Linked DNA regions of Homo sapiens. The protein of the gene in region 2 purifies or fractionates together with the protein of the main gene of each other region. This does not show direct contact. Each region holds a gene or a part of one and is shown on either strand. Other genes may lie near its edges.

What was found.
Region 1: the proteins of TMEM248 (region 2) and BCL7B purify together in Homo sapiens (affinity purification with mass spectrometry; one large-scale study listed by BioGRID and IntAct). This does not show direct contact.
Region 3: the proteins of TMEM248 (region 2) and ROBO2 purify together in Homo sapiens (affinity purification with mass spectrometry; one large-scale study listed by BioGRID and IntAct). This does not show direct contact.
Region 4: the proteins of TMEM248 (region 2) and ASTE1 purify together in Homo sapiens (affinity purification with mass spectrometry; one large-scale study listed by BioGRID and IntAct). This does not show direct contact.

What each region holds. Positions count from the first base shown.
Region 1 is NC_000007.14:73,544,191-73,547,690, forward strand, and holds part of BCL7B (B-cell CLL/lymphoma 7 protein family member B), read right to left. Parts: intron 1-3,500. UniProt on the Homo sapiens protein: Positive regulator of apoptosis. Plays a role in the Wnt signaling pathway, negatively regulating the expression of Wnt signaling components CTNNB1 and HMGA1.
Region 2 is NC_000007.14:66,945,225-66,948,724, reverse strand, and holds part of TMEM248 (transmembrane protein 248), read right to left. Parts: coding exon 3,464-3,500; intron 182-3,463; coding exon 31-181; intron 1-30.
Region 3 is NC_000003.12:77,043,099-77,046,598, reverse strand, and holds part of ROBO2 (roundabout homolog 2 isoform 23 precursor), read right to left. Parts: intron 1-3,500. UniProt on the Homo sapiens protein: Receptor for SLIT2, and probably SLIT1, which are thought to act as molecular guidance cue in cellular migration, including axonal navigation at the ventral midline of the neural tube and projection of axons to different regions during neuronal development.
Region 4 is NC_000003.12:131,016,826-131,020,325, forward strand, and holds part of ASTE1 (single-strand DNA endonuclease ASTE1), read right to left. Parts: intron 1,892-3,500; coding exon 1,681-1,891; intron 225-1,680; coding exon of another isoform or gene 175-224; exon of another isoform or gene 165-174; intron 1-164. UniProt on the Homo sapiens protein: Structure-specific DNA endonuclease that specifically cleaves single-stranded DNA and 3' overhang DNA.

The DNA of each region.
Region 1 (3,500 bases), 6.6 Mb from region 2:
CGCATGGATCACCTGAGGTCAGGAGTTCAAGATCAGCCTGGCCAACATTGTGAAACCCTATCTCTACTAAAAATACAAAAATCAGCCGAGTGTGGTGGCATGTGCCTGTAATCCCAGCTACTTGGGAGGCTGAGGCAGGAGAATTGCTTGAGGTGGAGGTTGCAGTGAACCAAGATGGCACTACTGCACTCCAGCCTGGGCTACAGTGCGAGACTCCATCTAAAAAAACATAAAATAAAACAAAAAATAAAATAAATAAATAAATAAATAAATAAAAATACAAAAATGAGCCTGGCATGGTGGCATGTGCCTGTAATCCCAGCTACTCTGGAGGCTGAGACAGGAGAATCGCTTGAACCTGGGGGGTGGAAGTTGCAGTGAGCCAAGATTCTGCCACTTCATAACAGCCTGGGCGAAAGAGCGAAACTCCATCTCAAAAAGAAACAAACAAAAAAACCCAAAAAACAAAATGATCACCCCATGTTTATTTTTACCTATAACATTTGTTTCAAGAAAGATGTAGGTTATAAGTGCAGGGCAACCACAGTGGGCAGGTAAGCACCAGCTTGCAACAAGAAAGCCCAAGGGCCAGGCACAGTGGCTCATGCCTGTAATCCCAGCACTTGAGGAGGCGGAGGTGGGAGGATCCCTTGAGCCCAGGAGTTTGAGACCAGCCTGGGCAACATAGTAAGACCCCATCTCTACAAAAAAATAAAAAATGAGCCATGTATGGTGGCATAGGCTGGTGGTCCCAGCTACTGAGAAGGCTGAGGTGGGAGGATCGCTTGAGCCTGAAAGTTTGAGGCTGCAGTGAGCTATGACTGTGCACTCCAACCTGGGCAACACAGTTAGACCCTAACTCAAAAAAAAAAAAGCCCAGAGTAAATCCAAGCATATGAAAATGAGAGCATCCCAAAAGCCAAAAGTTTAAATCTGAGTAGCCTCAAATTTACCAGTTCACACTTTTTATACATTTCCGGTAGATGCATTATATTAGTAACGTAATTTTTGTTAATAACTCAATTTTTTGTTTGTTTTTTGAGACAGAGTCTTGCTCTGTCACCCAGGCTGGAGTGCCATGGCACAATCTCGGCTCACTGCAAGCTCCACCTCCCAGGTTCACGCCATTCTCTTGCCTCAGCCTCCCGAGTAGCTGGGACTACAGGCGCCCACTACCATGCCCAGCTAATTTTTTGTATTTTTTAGTAGAGATGGGGTTTCACCATGTTAGCCAGGATGGTCTCGATCTCCTGGCTCCAGGATGGTCTCAATCCGCCCGCCTCAGCCTCCCAAAGTGCTGGGATTACAGGCGTGAGCCATCGCACTCGGCCAAGGAAAGGGGGTTTTCTAGCAGCATCTACTCCTGTCTATACACAATGCCCAAGAGATTTAACTGCTTGACCTTTGACCCCTGTGGGTAATGGCCAGAGCCAGGCTGGATGGGGGAATAAACAGTTGCTCCAGAACCACGCCCCATCAACTCCATGAGTTTGGCATCCTAGAACTTCTTGGGATGGCTGCTCTCAGATAAAGGCAGAGTCCATACAGTTGGTGCTAGGAGGTTCCCTGGAGCCAGAGAGGACAGCAGAGAGCAAAAGGGAGAGGCTGAACCCTGAGGCTAACCTCAACCTCCTAAATTCATTTACAGAAAGGAAAACTGGCCGGGCGCGGTGGCTCACGCCTGTAATCCCAGCACTGTGGGAGGCCGAGGTGGGCCGATCACGAGGTCAGGAGATTGAGACCATCCTGGCTAACACGGTTTTCACCCGCCTCCACTAAAAATACAAAAAAATTAGCTGAGCGTGGTGGCGGGTGCCTGTAGTCCCAGCTACTTGGGAGGCTGAGGCAGGAGAATGGCGTGAACCCAGGAGGCAGAGCTTGCAGTGAGCCAAGATCGTGCCACTGCACTCGAGCCTGGGTGACAGAGCGAGACTCCATCTCAAAAAAAAAAAAAAAAAAGAAAGAAAAACTACGGATCAGGCTTCCGTCCTCCTCGTAGTTACACATTACCAGCCAATGCAATTGAGAGTCCCAAGGGAATAAAAGGTGAGTGCACGCATAAAACTCACCAGAGATTGGAGGAACACAGGCACCCTGATAAACAGAACAGTCTGTACCAGAAGGAGCAGAATAACTGAAATTAAACATGGATTTGCTCAGAAAGATAAGGATAATATTGAAAAGTTGTTTTAGCCAGGGGCAGTGACTCACAGCCTGTAATCACAGCACTTTTTGGGAGGCCAAGGTAGGCAGATCACTTGAGGTCAGGAGTTCGAGACCAGCCTAGCCAATATGGTGAAACCTGTCTCTACTAAAAATAGAAAAAAATTAGCTGGGCATGGTGGCACATGCCTGTAATCCCAGCTACTCAGGAGGCTGAGGCAGTAGAATCATTTGAACCTGCAAAGTGGAGGCTGCAGTGAGATGAGATCATGCCACTGCACTCCAGCCTGGGTGACACAGCGAGACTCTGTCTCAAAAAAAAAAAAAGTCGTTTTGAGGAAGAACCAATTGAGGCAATTTGTTATGAAAAATACAATTGCTCAAATAAAAATTAAGTGAATGAGGTTAATTGAAATACATACAGCTAAATAAAAGATTAATGAGCAAAAACTGCGTTGAGAAACTCAGAATGCACCAGGAAAGACAAGAAATGAAATGAATGAGAGAAAAGTTAAGAAATAAAGCAGTTGGCCAGGCGTGGTGGCTCACGCCTGTAATCCCAGCACTTTGGGAGGCCAAGGCGGGCGGATCACCTAAGGTCAGGAGTTCAAGACCAGCCTGACAACACGGAGAAACCCCATCTCTACTAAAAATACAAAAGTAGCTGGGCATGGTGAGGCAAGCGCTACTCGCGAGGCTGAGGCAGAAGAATCACTTGAACCTGGTAGGTGGAGGTTGCGGTGAGCTGAGATTGTGCCATTGCACTCCAGCCTGGGCAACAAGAGCAAAACTCCATCTCAAAAAAAAAAGCAAGCAAGCAAGCAGCTGCGTGGGTGCAGTGGCTCACACCTGTGATCCCAGCACTTTGGGAGGCCAAGACAGAAGGATCGCTTGAGCCCAGGAGTTTGAGACCAGCCTGGGAAATACAGCAAGACCCTGTCTCTACAAATAATTTAAAAGTTTGCCAGGCGTGGTGGCACGTGCCTGTAGTCCCCGTTACTTGGGAGGTGGAGACATAACTATTTCTTGAGCTCAGGAATTTGAGGCTACAGTGAACCATCATTGCACCACTGTACTCCAGCATGAGCTATGGAGTGAGACAGTCTCAAAAAAAAAGGAAAAGAAATATTACAGGATATTTTGAGGGAATTCCTAGGAGATCAAATATAGAAGAAATGCTAAAGTTTCCAGGAAGCCAAGTAGATCACCTACAAAGACTCAAGCATGGGAATAACATCACATTTCTTAACAGCGACACTGGATGTACAATTCAGTAATAGCTTCAAAGTGCTGAAAGAAAATAATTTTGAACCTAGAATTTCATATACAGGTAAAAT
Region 2 (3,500 bases):
GCACGTTCATCAGGTGCCGGGTACACTTACACAGTGACGGGGAACACCCCAGGGCTGGCCGTGAGGGTCATGCAGGCTGTGAATACCACCTGCTCACAGTGACCGTGGAGGGCGCAGTCATCTGAGCTCCACGCTGTAGGCAGGGTGAAGGTGATGTTTATCTCCTCGTGGGCTTCCCTGCCTATGAAAGAGAAATCATTTTTTTATAAAGTCAAGAACCACGTACTTGTCATTCTCTGGGATACAAATAAATCCTGAAATCAAACCCACACAGGAATCATCTATCAGCCCAGGCACCTGCCTTTGTGGGATCTGAGGAAGAAGAGCAGTCCTGACCCTGACCATGAGTCCTACTCAACTCAGAGCCACGAAGCAGCGAAGGAAGTGGCCACTTTCCAGTACATGGCCTGGAGATGCCAAACCAGACCTCGGGCAGATCAGAGATGAAAAGCTCGGGCTGGGTGAATTATCCCCAGCATTTCTGCACAGCTGTCTAGCCATTTTCAAACATCTTTTATATGTATTATTTCACTTAAAATTTACTACTCTCCCATGAACATGACTGAAGAAGTGCAGCTGTTCCCCTTTTACATATGAACAAACAGAGGTCAGAGGGTTTCAGAGTTAAGAAAGGCAAGTGATGAAGCTTAAACTAAAACCAACGTATTGCCAGGCACAGTGGTTCACATCTGTAGTCCCAGCACTTTGACTTTAGAAGGCTGAGGCAGGAGGATTGCTTGAGGCCGGGAATTCACGACCAGCCTGAACATGACAGCAAGATTCTGTCTCTACAAAAAAGTTTTAAAAATCAGCCAGGTGTACTGGTGCACACCTGTGGTCCCAGGTACTAGGGAGGATCACTTGAGCCCAGGAGTTTGAGGCTGCAGTGAGCTATGATCACACCACTGCACTCTAGCCTGGCGACAGATCAAGACCCAGTCTCAAAATTAAAATAAAATTTTAAATAAAAATTAAATTAAAATAAAAAATTAAAATATTAAAATAAAATTAAAATTAAAAAATAGCCAAGCGTGGTGGCTCATGCCTGTAATCCCAGCACTTTGGGAGGCTGAGGCGGGCGGATCATTTGAAGTCAGAAGTTCAAGACCAGCCTGGCCAACATGGTAAAATCCTGTCTCCACTAAAAATACAAAATTAGCTGGGCATGGTGTCACGAACCTATAATCCCAGCTACGCGGGAGTCTGAGGCAGAACAGTCGCTTGAACCCGGGAGACAGAGGTTGCAGTGAGCCAAGATTGTGCCACTGCACTCCAACCTGGGCGACAGAGTGAGACTCCATCTCAAAATAACAACAAAAAATCCCGAAGGTGTCCTTATGCCATGCCATAAGCAACAGGTCCACTTGCTACATGGAAAACCCAGAAGTCACCCATACCTTGATTATTATGGGAATATTCTCACCTCTAACAGCCAATAGGAGGCTGGTGGGCACTTAAATTCCTTGAAGGACTTTTTATTTGTTTCTTGTTTTTTTTTTTTTTTTTTTTTGAGACAGGGTCTCACTCTATTGCCCAGGCTGGAGTACAGTGGTACAATCTTAGCTCACTGTAGCCTCGACCTCCCAGGTTCAAGCAATCCTCCCACCTCAGCCTCACAAGTAGCTGGGACTACAGGTGCACGCCACAACACCTGGTTAATTTTTTTAATTTTTTCATAAAGACAGGTGTTTGCTATGTGCCCAGGCTGGGCTTCAACACCTGAGCTCAAGCAATCTTCCTGCCTCAGCCTCTCAATGTGCTGGGATTACAGGCATGAGCCACTGCATCTAGCCTAAGCAATTTTTAAAAAGCCTTTTGGTAACCAAAGAACAAAAGGTTATTCTTCCAAGGCCCAGGTGTCCCATATGAAGCCTTTCCTGATTATTCCAGCTTCCACTGCCTTCTAGCCCTTCTCCTGCAACACTTACAGTCTGTCATGGGTTTAGTACTGGTCAAAGGGCAGTGCTCCACATTTTATAAGTATGTATTTTTTCATATCCCTTATCAAGCACTTACGTAGCATTTCCTTTGTGGCAGGAACTATTGTAAGTGCTTGATAAACATTAACTCACGTTTATCTTTGTCTCTTCCATAACCCCAAAATTCCAAAAGGAAGAGACCAAATGTTAGGCCTTTTTTTTTTTTGAGGTGAAGTCTCACTCTGTTGCCTAGACTGGAGTGCAGTGGCATGATCTTGGCTCACTGCAGCCTCCGCCTCCAGGGTTCAAGTGATTCTCCCACCTCAGCCTCCAGAGTGGCTGGGATCACGGGCGCCTGCCACCACGCCTGGCTAATTTTTTTGCATTTTTAGTAGAGATGGGGTTTCACCATGTTGGCCAGACTGGTCTTGAACTCCTGACCTCAAGTGATCCACCCACCTCGGCCTCCCAAAGTGCTGGGATTACAGGCGTGAGCCACTGCGCACGGGCCCATCTTAGGCATTGTCTTTTCTTTTCTTTTTTTGAGATGGAGTCTCGCTCTGTCGCCCAGGCTGGAGTGCAGTGGTGCAATCTCGGCTCACCGCAACCTCCACGTCTTGGGTTCAAACAATTCTCCTGCCTCAGCCTCCTGAGTAGCTGGGACTACAAGTGCGCACCACCATGCCTGCATGCCCAGCTGACTTCTTTTTTTTTTTTTTTGGAGAGAGAGTCTCCCTCTGTCGCCCAGGCTGGAGCACAGTGGCATGAATCTCAGCTCACTGCAACCTCTGCCTCCTGGGTTCAAGCTATTCTCCTGCCTCAGCCACCCGAGTAGCTGGGACTACAGGTGCCTGCCACCACGCCCGGCTAATTTTTGTATTTTTAGTAGAGACGGGGTTTTGCCATATTGGCCAGGCTGGTCTCAAACTCTTGACCTTGTGATCTGCCCACCTTGGCCTCCCAAAGTGCTCGGATTACAGGCGTGAGCCACCGCGCCCGGCCAATTTTTTGTATTTTAGTAGTGATGGGGTTTCACCATGTTGCCCACGCTGGTCTCAAACTCCCGAGCTCAGGCAATCCACCCACCTCGGCCTCCCAAAGTGCTGGGATTACATGCATGAGCTACTGCACCCAGCCATCTTAGTCATTTTCTAGTTCTTCCCAGCAGCTTAGCACAGTGCCAGACTAACAATGGCCATTAAAAAATATGTAAACTAATAGCAATAGAAGATGTGTAGTAAGTAATGAAAACTCCAACAGGACAAGCCTGAATTAAAATTACATGTTTGTAAATATTAGACAGGCCTTAACAGTTTTCTCACAGTTTCTCATTCCTACAGGCTTTTGAGAAACTACTTCTAGCCAGGTACTTTACCATGTAACGATGGAACAGAAATGGTTCATGTAGTTCAAACTCAACAAAAAAAAGACACGCGCAAGACTACAATCTAGTACAATATAGTCAGTAAAAACATACACGGTGCATCCTCTTTTTGTAACAGTGGTTGCCTAAGGAGCCTGAGTGGAGAGTGGCTACTGCATACCTGAAAGTCCAATCTGATGCCCTAAGATGGTTGAGTA
Region 3 (3,500 bases), on a different chromosome or scaffold from region 2:
TGGGATCTGTGACAAGGCACATAAAATCTCTAAGCTTCAGTTCTCCATGTGCCCAACCAATAAGAGAGTTGTGCAATATAGCTGCAAATATTCATAATGGCTCCGAGATGCTATCATTCTATGATTTATATTTACTATTGCTGAGATCTCTGCTAAAAGTGACAAGTTCAACTGAGGTACTATCTTTGTAAAGTTTTACGAGGCAACTGAGGAAGACTTAGAAGACAACAACCACTGAAGGGATTAGAAATCAGGACTATTGGGGATTTGAGACAGATTAGTATAATATAAAATTGTTTCACTTCAAAACATCATACCCAACTCATAAGGCCCTTCGACTCTTTCTTTCCATGATCAATTAAAAGAAAATATCTACTTCATATATTGCTAATGGCAATGTAAAGTAGCACAGCTGCTTTGGAAAATAGTCTTGCAGTTCCTCAAAATGTGAAACACAGACTAAACATACAACCCAGCATTTCCATCCCAGGTTAAATGAAGACATATGTTCACACAAAAGTTAGTACGTGGATGTTCAAAGCAGCAATATCTATAATAGCCAAAAATGGAAATAACTTAAATGTTCATCAACTAGTAAACCAAAGGATAGATGATAAGGAATATTGTTTGGCAATAAAAAAGAATGATGTACTGATGCATATGCTATGACACGGATGACCCTTAAAAACATTACGCTAAAGAAAAGAAGCTAGTCACAAAATGACATCATATATTGTATGATTGCATTTATATATAAAATGTCCAGAAAAGACAAATCCACAGAGGCAGAAGTAGAGTGGTGATTTCTTGTGGTTGGTGGAGGGATGGTGGAACAAGCTACATAGTTTCTTTCTTGGGTAATTAAGAACATTTTAAAGTTAGATTGTAGTGATGGTTGCACAATTCTGAGAACAAGTTGAATACAAGTTGTGAGAACAAGTGAAAAATGGTTCCTCATTGGGGGTCATGAAAAAGCCTATGAATGGTGGAAGCCATTTACTGTGATGGGAATGGCTAGAAAGAGAAGATTCTGTCTTAGGCTTGAGTTTTGTACATTCTCATTGGACATGAAGCAAAGACGTCAAGTAGTCAGGTGAGTATGTCAAGCACTGATGCAAGCACTGGAGATCAACAGTATATACAACAGCCAAGTTCTGTGCTGATGGATCTTATATCCCTCCATGCAATGATTAGGGCAATTTTAGAATTATCAATCCAAACATGTATTTAAACCTCATGTGATTAGATGAAAGAGCCTAAGGATTGGCTGCAAATGGAGGAGAAAACACTAAGGATTGAGGCCTCCGTTACTCCAACACTGTGTTGAGTCAAGTATTCTGGGTAAGCATGCTACCCTAGATGCTATATGCTTCTATCATTGTATAACACACTACTAAAACAGTAGAGTTGATAGGTATTTATTTTTAAAAAGAGTTTATAATCATTCCTTCATTCTTTATATAGTAATTCTTTTACAAGAAGAAGAAAAGCCTACAGCTGGCTCAGGAAGTCCTTTCAGATACTTTCCCTACCGCCCGCCTCCCTCCCCCAACATTGGGTGTTCCAAGCCCCTCACAAAGACCTTAAACCCTCAAGTAGTGGCTCAGCTAATAAAGGCACACATGGAAAAAAAAAGAAGAGAAGAAGGAGAAAAGCAATATCTATGCCAATGTATTGATTTAGGTTGATAGATCTATACCTGGAGAACCTTTAAGAAATACAGCAATACTTTTCTTTAGAAATAAATCTGTAAAATGGCACTCTATAAATCTCCACTGTTTGCTTGAACTCAGATATGACGACTTTTACTTGTGTAAACTGGAAAATGATAGGATCCGTGCAAAACATTTTGCATAAAGCTATATATAGTATTGTGGGGTAAAAGTGAGAAAGTCAAAATCCCAGTTGGATATACCTAAAGGTAAAATATTATTCACATTTTTCCTTTAAATGCAGATTTTCTAAATTATCATTCAAGAAACACCCTCACCTATCTTCTTCACTCTTCAAGTGTTTCTCTAATTCCTTTCATTAGATCCAAAAAAGAAAAAAAGAGGAGGAGAATAAGAAAAGGAAAGAGACGATGAATGAGAAGAAGAAAGAGAAGGAGAGGAGAAGGAGGAAAAAAAGGAGAAAAAGGAGAAATAGTAAATAAGATGATAATCTTTTTTTCTAATACTCTTCGAAAACCAAATTGCACATGGGAAGTAAATGTACCTCCTGTAGACTGCCGGAACTATTTCAGCAGATATTACTAGGCACACACACATCCCACATACATCAGCTCCCTTCATTGCTATGTATGTATCCCAACTTATACAATGTGCTTACATATCTATATTTTTATCGTCAAACATGCTATTTTATACAAGCTGCTCAGGGATGAGATGGCCAGAACTGCTCTTTTTATATAATCATTACTTTTTTTTTTTACAATATTTTTGCTTAATGTTCTAAGAAATCCTTTTTTTTTATGGTCCACATGTTGCGTAGCATCAAAGGTTATTCAAACAAAGCCAATTCAAACATGGTATTACTGCATAGCTTCAAAAACACATTTCAGGTTACTTATATATAATTTAAATTCTGAAATAGACTACATATGGCTATGATAATAAGCCCATTACTGAAAAAGAGCACTTTAGCAACATGTATAAACCTCTATGAGATTCTACATCTGCACTATGCACATACATTATCTTTACTATATTTATCTCCCCTAATATCATGTGTGCCACTTTCATTTAAGAATAGTTAAAGGGTAAAGATGAGAAAAACATTCTCATTTTAAAACACCTTTTCACAAGTATTATAAAATTATCAGATTGATGTAATATATGGCATATAGATGTAATTTAAAAGTGTTGCCATAGTTCATATTAATTTCCCATAAATGACTGCAAAACCCTATTCTTATTCAAAAATAAAGAAAAGCTGGAAAACAAAGGCTAACCTTAACATACATTCTCCTATATGATCATACAGAAAAGTCTAGATGTGATTAATCTGCATCAATAAGAAAACCATTATTTACATCCCAAATAGAAAAGTTTATCTACATTTCTCAACTAACTTAATATTTGCTCTCTATGGATTGCTACAGGGACACAATACTGAAAAATTATAAATAATATTAGCAGATAGCTTCTATGAGGTGGCAAAACGCTACCATTTTTCATATACTATAAAAATGCACATATAAATAACCCACCAAGCAAATATCAATGCAAATATATGTATCATTTGTCACTGAATAAAATTAATATCTGTGTCTAGCACAAGGATGGTCAGTATATCTTTGAAATGGTACAGGCTTCTGTACATTTGAAATTCATGTGGAGTATAAGCACACACCTCTAAGAAGAATAAGTAAATAGAAATCATAGAATCCTGGAAGAGTAACAAAGCTTAGAGAACCTACAAACCAACCTCTTCACTATATATGTGAACACTGAGTCTCAAAGTGCTGAAACAGCCTAGAGGGCAGTGTTCTCCACATC
Region 4 (3,500 bases), on a different chromosome or scaffold from region 2:
TAATCATTTTCTTTTCATAGTAGAGGATAAGGGGCAAGAAGCAACAATCCTAGGAAATAAGGAATGTTGTGTGTTTTTAGCTGTAAGTTTCTACAGATTTGTTTGGGCAGGGGTGCACAAAATAACATCTGGACCAATTTGAAAATAATAAAAAGGAGGCCCACCTTTTACCAACTAGCGAGGAGCAAGACACTGAGCCTGCCTGGGTACAGGGTCCACATTTCCTAAAAGAAAAGAAACAGACCCTTGACATGCCCCTTCTCTTGGACTCAGGTAAAAACTTAATAGGCTTGTGCTCTGAGAGCTTTCTTATACTGTATTTATTATTCAATCAGAGGAAATACTCTAAACCTGTGTTCATAAAGCAGCAGTGGGACTTAACTGATTTGTTTTGTGTTAAGTTGGCTGTCATATAACAACAGTCCCTCTGACAGCTGTCAAGCTTGAGCCTTAATACTTTAGAAACAGGAATCCATGCTGTTTCATTCTTTTATCTAACTTATTAAAATAGTAAACTAGAGTAGCACGATCTAATAGAACTTTCTGCAGTGCTGTCCAATACAGTAGGCTAGCCTATAGCCATATGTAACTACCTGACACTTGAAGTGTGGCTAGTGTGACTGAAAAGCTGAATTTTTAATTTAAATGGAATTTAACTTTGGCCATGTGTGGCTAGTAGCCACCATATTAGATAGTACTATTCCAGAGTATAATTATTATGCATGTTTATACAGTGTTAGAGCATTCATAATCTTTAAAGAGGATATTCCACTGAAGTATTAAAGTGTCCCAGTGTTTCAGCATTTACTTCACCTGGTATTATATGCAGATGAACTTGCCTCAGTGTATTTAAGAGATATTACTGGCCGGGCGCGGTGGCTCATGCTTGTAATCCCAGCACTTTGGGAGGCTGAGGCGGGTGGATCACAAGGTCAGGAGTTCAAGACCAGCCTGGCCAAGATGGTGAAAACCCGTCTCTACTAAAAATACAAAAATTAGCTGGGCGCGGTGACAGGCACCTGTAATCCCAGCTACTCGGAAGGCTGAGGCAGAAGAATCACTGGAACCCAGGTGGCAGAGGCTGCAGTGAGCCAAGATTGCACCACTGCACTCCAGCCTAGGCAACAGAGTGAGACTCCATCTCAAAAAAAAAAAAAAAAAAAAAAAAAAAGGACAAATTACTATTTCTGCCATCACTACTTACATACTAATTGAAACCTACAGCAGAGAAAAAGGAATAAAAAGATGTATAAGCAAGAATGTAGTGGTTGTAGGTATTTAGATAAGTTTCACTTCTGGGCAAGTTTCTTGTGATGACGTTGCTGCTGTGCTAATAACTGGATAGGTAACATGGAATACAAAATGCAGCTGGCAAAATACACTGTCACAATTCACAAGTTAAAGGAGTAGGTGCCACCAAACAGATGGAAGTTGGCAGTACCCCAACACATCTCACTGCTGTATACTTAAGATTCAAGCCCTCCAGCACTGAGCCTGGCACATGAAGTGTTAAAAAATATTTACCAATGAATGAATGATATTTTGGTGCCTCCACATCTAAGTTGTGATACAATTAATGGGAGTAAATAATCCAAGAATACTTTTTTGTTTGTGTAAACTCGAGTAAACAGTTTGCAAGCAACATGCCACAATATACTCCTGTAATTTCCAGTTACCTACCAGGGCTGTTGATTATGGCAATCAAGGGCCCCACTAGCATTGTGAGCAGTAAGGATTGTAGATGATGTAGCTTTGCTTTGGTCTCGGTGTGCTGCAACCAGTAGCAACTGACAGCAATGGGCAACTTCAGTGAAGTAGGGATTGGCTCCAGAATGGTCTGTTTCACCTTCAGGGTTTCTAACAGAAGCATCTGCCGCCTCCTCAAGGAGAGCTGAAAATACACACCAAGTATCCTGCAAGTTACTTTGGGAAATGTCTGTTATTTCTTTTTTCCACCATAGCATGAAGAGATTTAATGCTACTGAAACTTCTGTCAGCTGTTAAACTTATCTTCTTGTGGGAAAAAAAATCAGCCACACTCACAGCATTTAGAACATTAATAAGATGCTTTATAAATATGGTTGGTTGAATGGGTGTACTGCCTACTCCTACACCTTTACTTATGTCATTCCATCCTCTTTGTATACGCTGGTGAGCATCTTCAGTGCACGTCACCTGGGAAGCTCATTAAAAATTCAATCCTTAGGCCCTACTCCATAAATTTTGATTGACTAATCTGAGAGAGAGCCCAGGAGGAATATACATTTTAACTAGCAGCCCAAGTATTCTACTTTGAGAAACAAAGCTGTATACTCAACACCACCTGTATGTGCCTGTGCAACAGGCATTTGCCTTCAGCATGATGCCATTACTAATTGCCTCCAGAAGACAAACGTTGCTTTTAGGAACCCTATGTGGCATATACTCTATTTGTTTGGGTCCTGTCTCATGTCCCTTCCCTGTTGAATGCTTTATTGTCTTTGCATAAAAGACACACAGGGATTGTCCCAGGGTGGCTGCTTGTAGATTAGAGGTATATTCAAGGGAGATAGGAATATTTTAAGGACTACTTGCATTGTGCTTGGAGTAACACGCCATACTTTTACTTCATGGTTTAGCGTGTACTTCAAATAAAAGCTCAGAAGTAAAACAGCTATAAGAGCACTGAGGTTCTTGTTGAAATAATTTTACCTTAATGAATTACCAAGACCTTGTAAGAACCAGAATGGGGACCTTACAGGTCATGCACTCAGGAATATTAAAAGGTCATCTTCTGGGGGACTTTATAATCAAACTTTAAGAAAAAGAAAAGTTGTATTCCTAGTGTCTGCACACAGCCAGAAAAAGATTTTCTGCTTTCTGGAAAGTTGAGATGGTAATAACATTTCTCAGCATGTAACATCTAGTTAGTAGAAAGAGTGGTTGACAGCTGAGACTAAAGATATTAACCTGAAACAAAACACATCATAAATGACAAAATAGTTTTATCATTAATGCATGAAAACTTTAAATAGTACGATTATTTCTAAATACTGCTTTTAATAATATTGTGATACAAATTTTAAAATTAGAAATATGCAAAGAACTTTATAGTATAACCAATTACCCCTACTGGAAGTAGTTTTAACTACTTAAATTTTAAGTAAAGTGGAAACTAAACTCTTAAACTGGTTTTTAAAATGCACTAAGTAGAGCTAAGAAAATACACCAACTCTTTTCTGATATATATTTAAATTACTGAATTATAGAGCCAAGTTACAACTTTTCATAAACAAAGCAGTCTGGGCTTTGACTTCAGAGATGTTCCGCTCTGCACTAACCCTATGGCTTTGGTCGAAAGGTTTCTGACCTTTTCTACAGTCTGTCTGACTTATCTGTAAAATGGTCATTATAATGACTTGTATAAGATGTTTCATCAAACCCACCAGTCCACAGTCCCTTCCAAAAGGGGAAGTACTCAACTCACAGCCCTTAACGTTAGTTAGGTTTTATCCCATGTG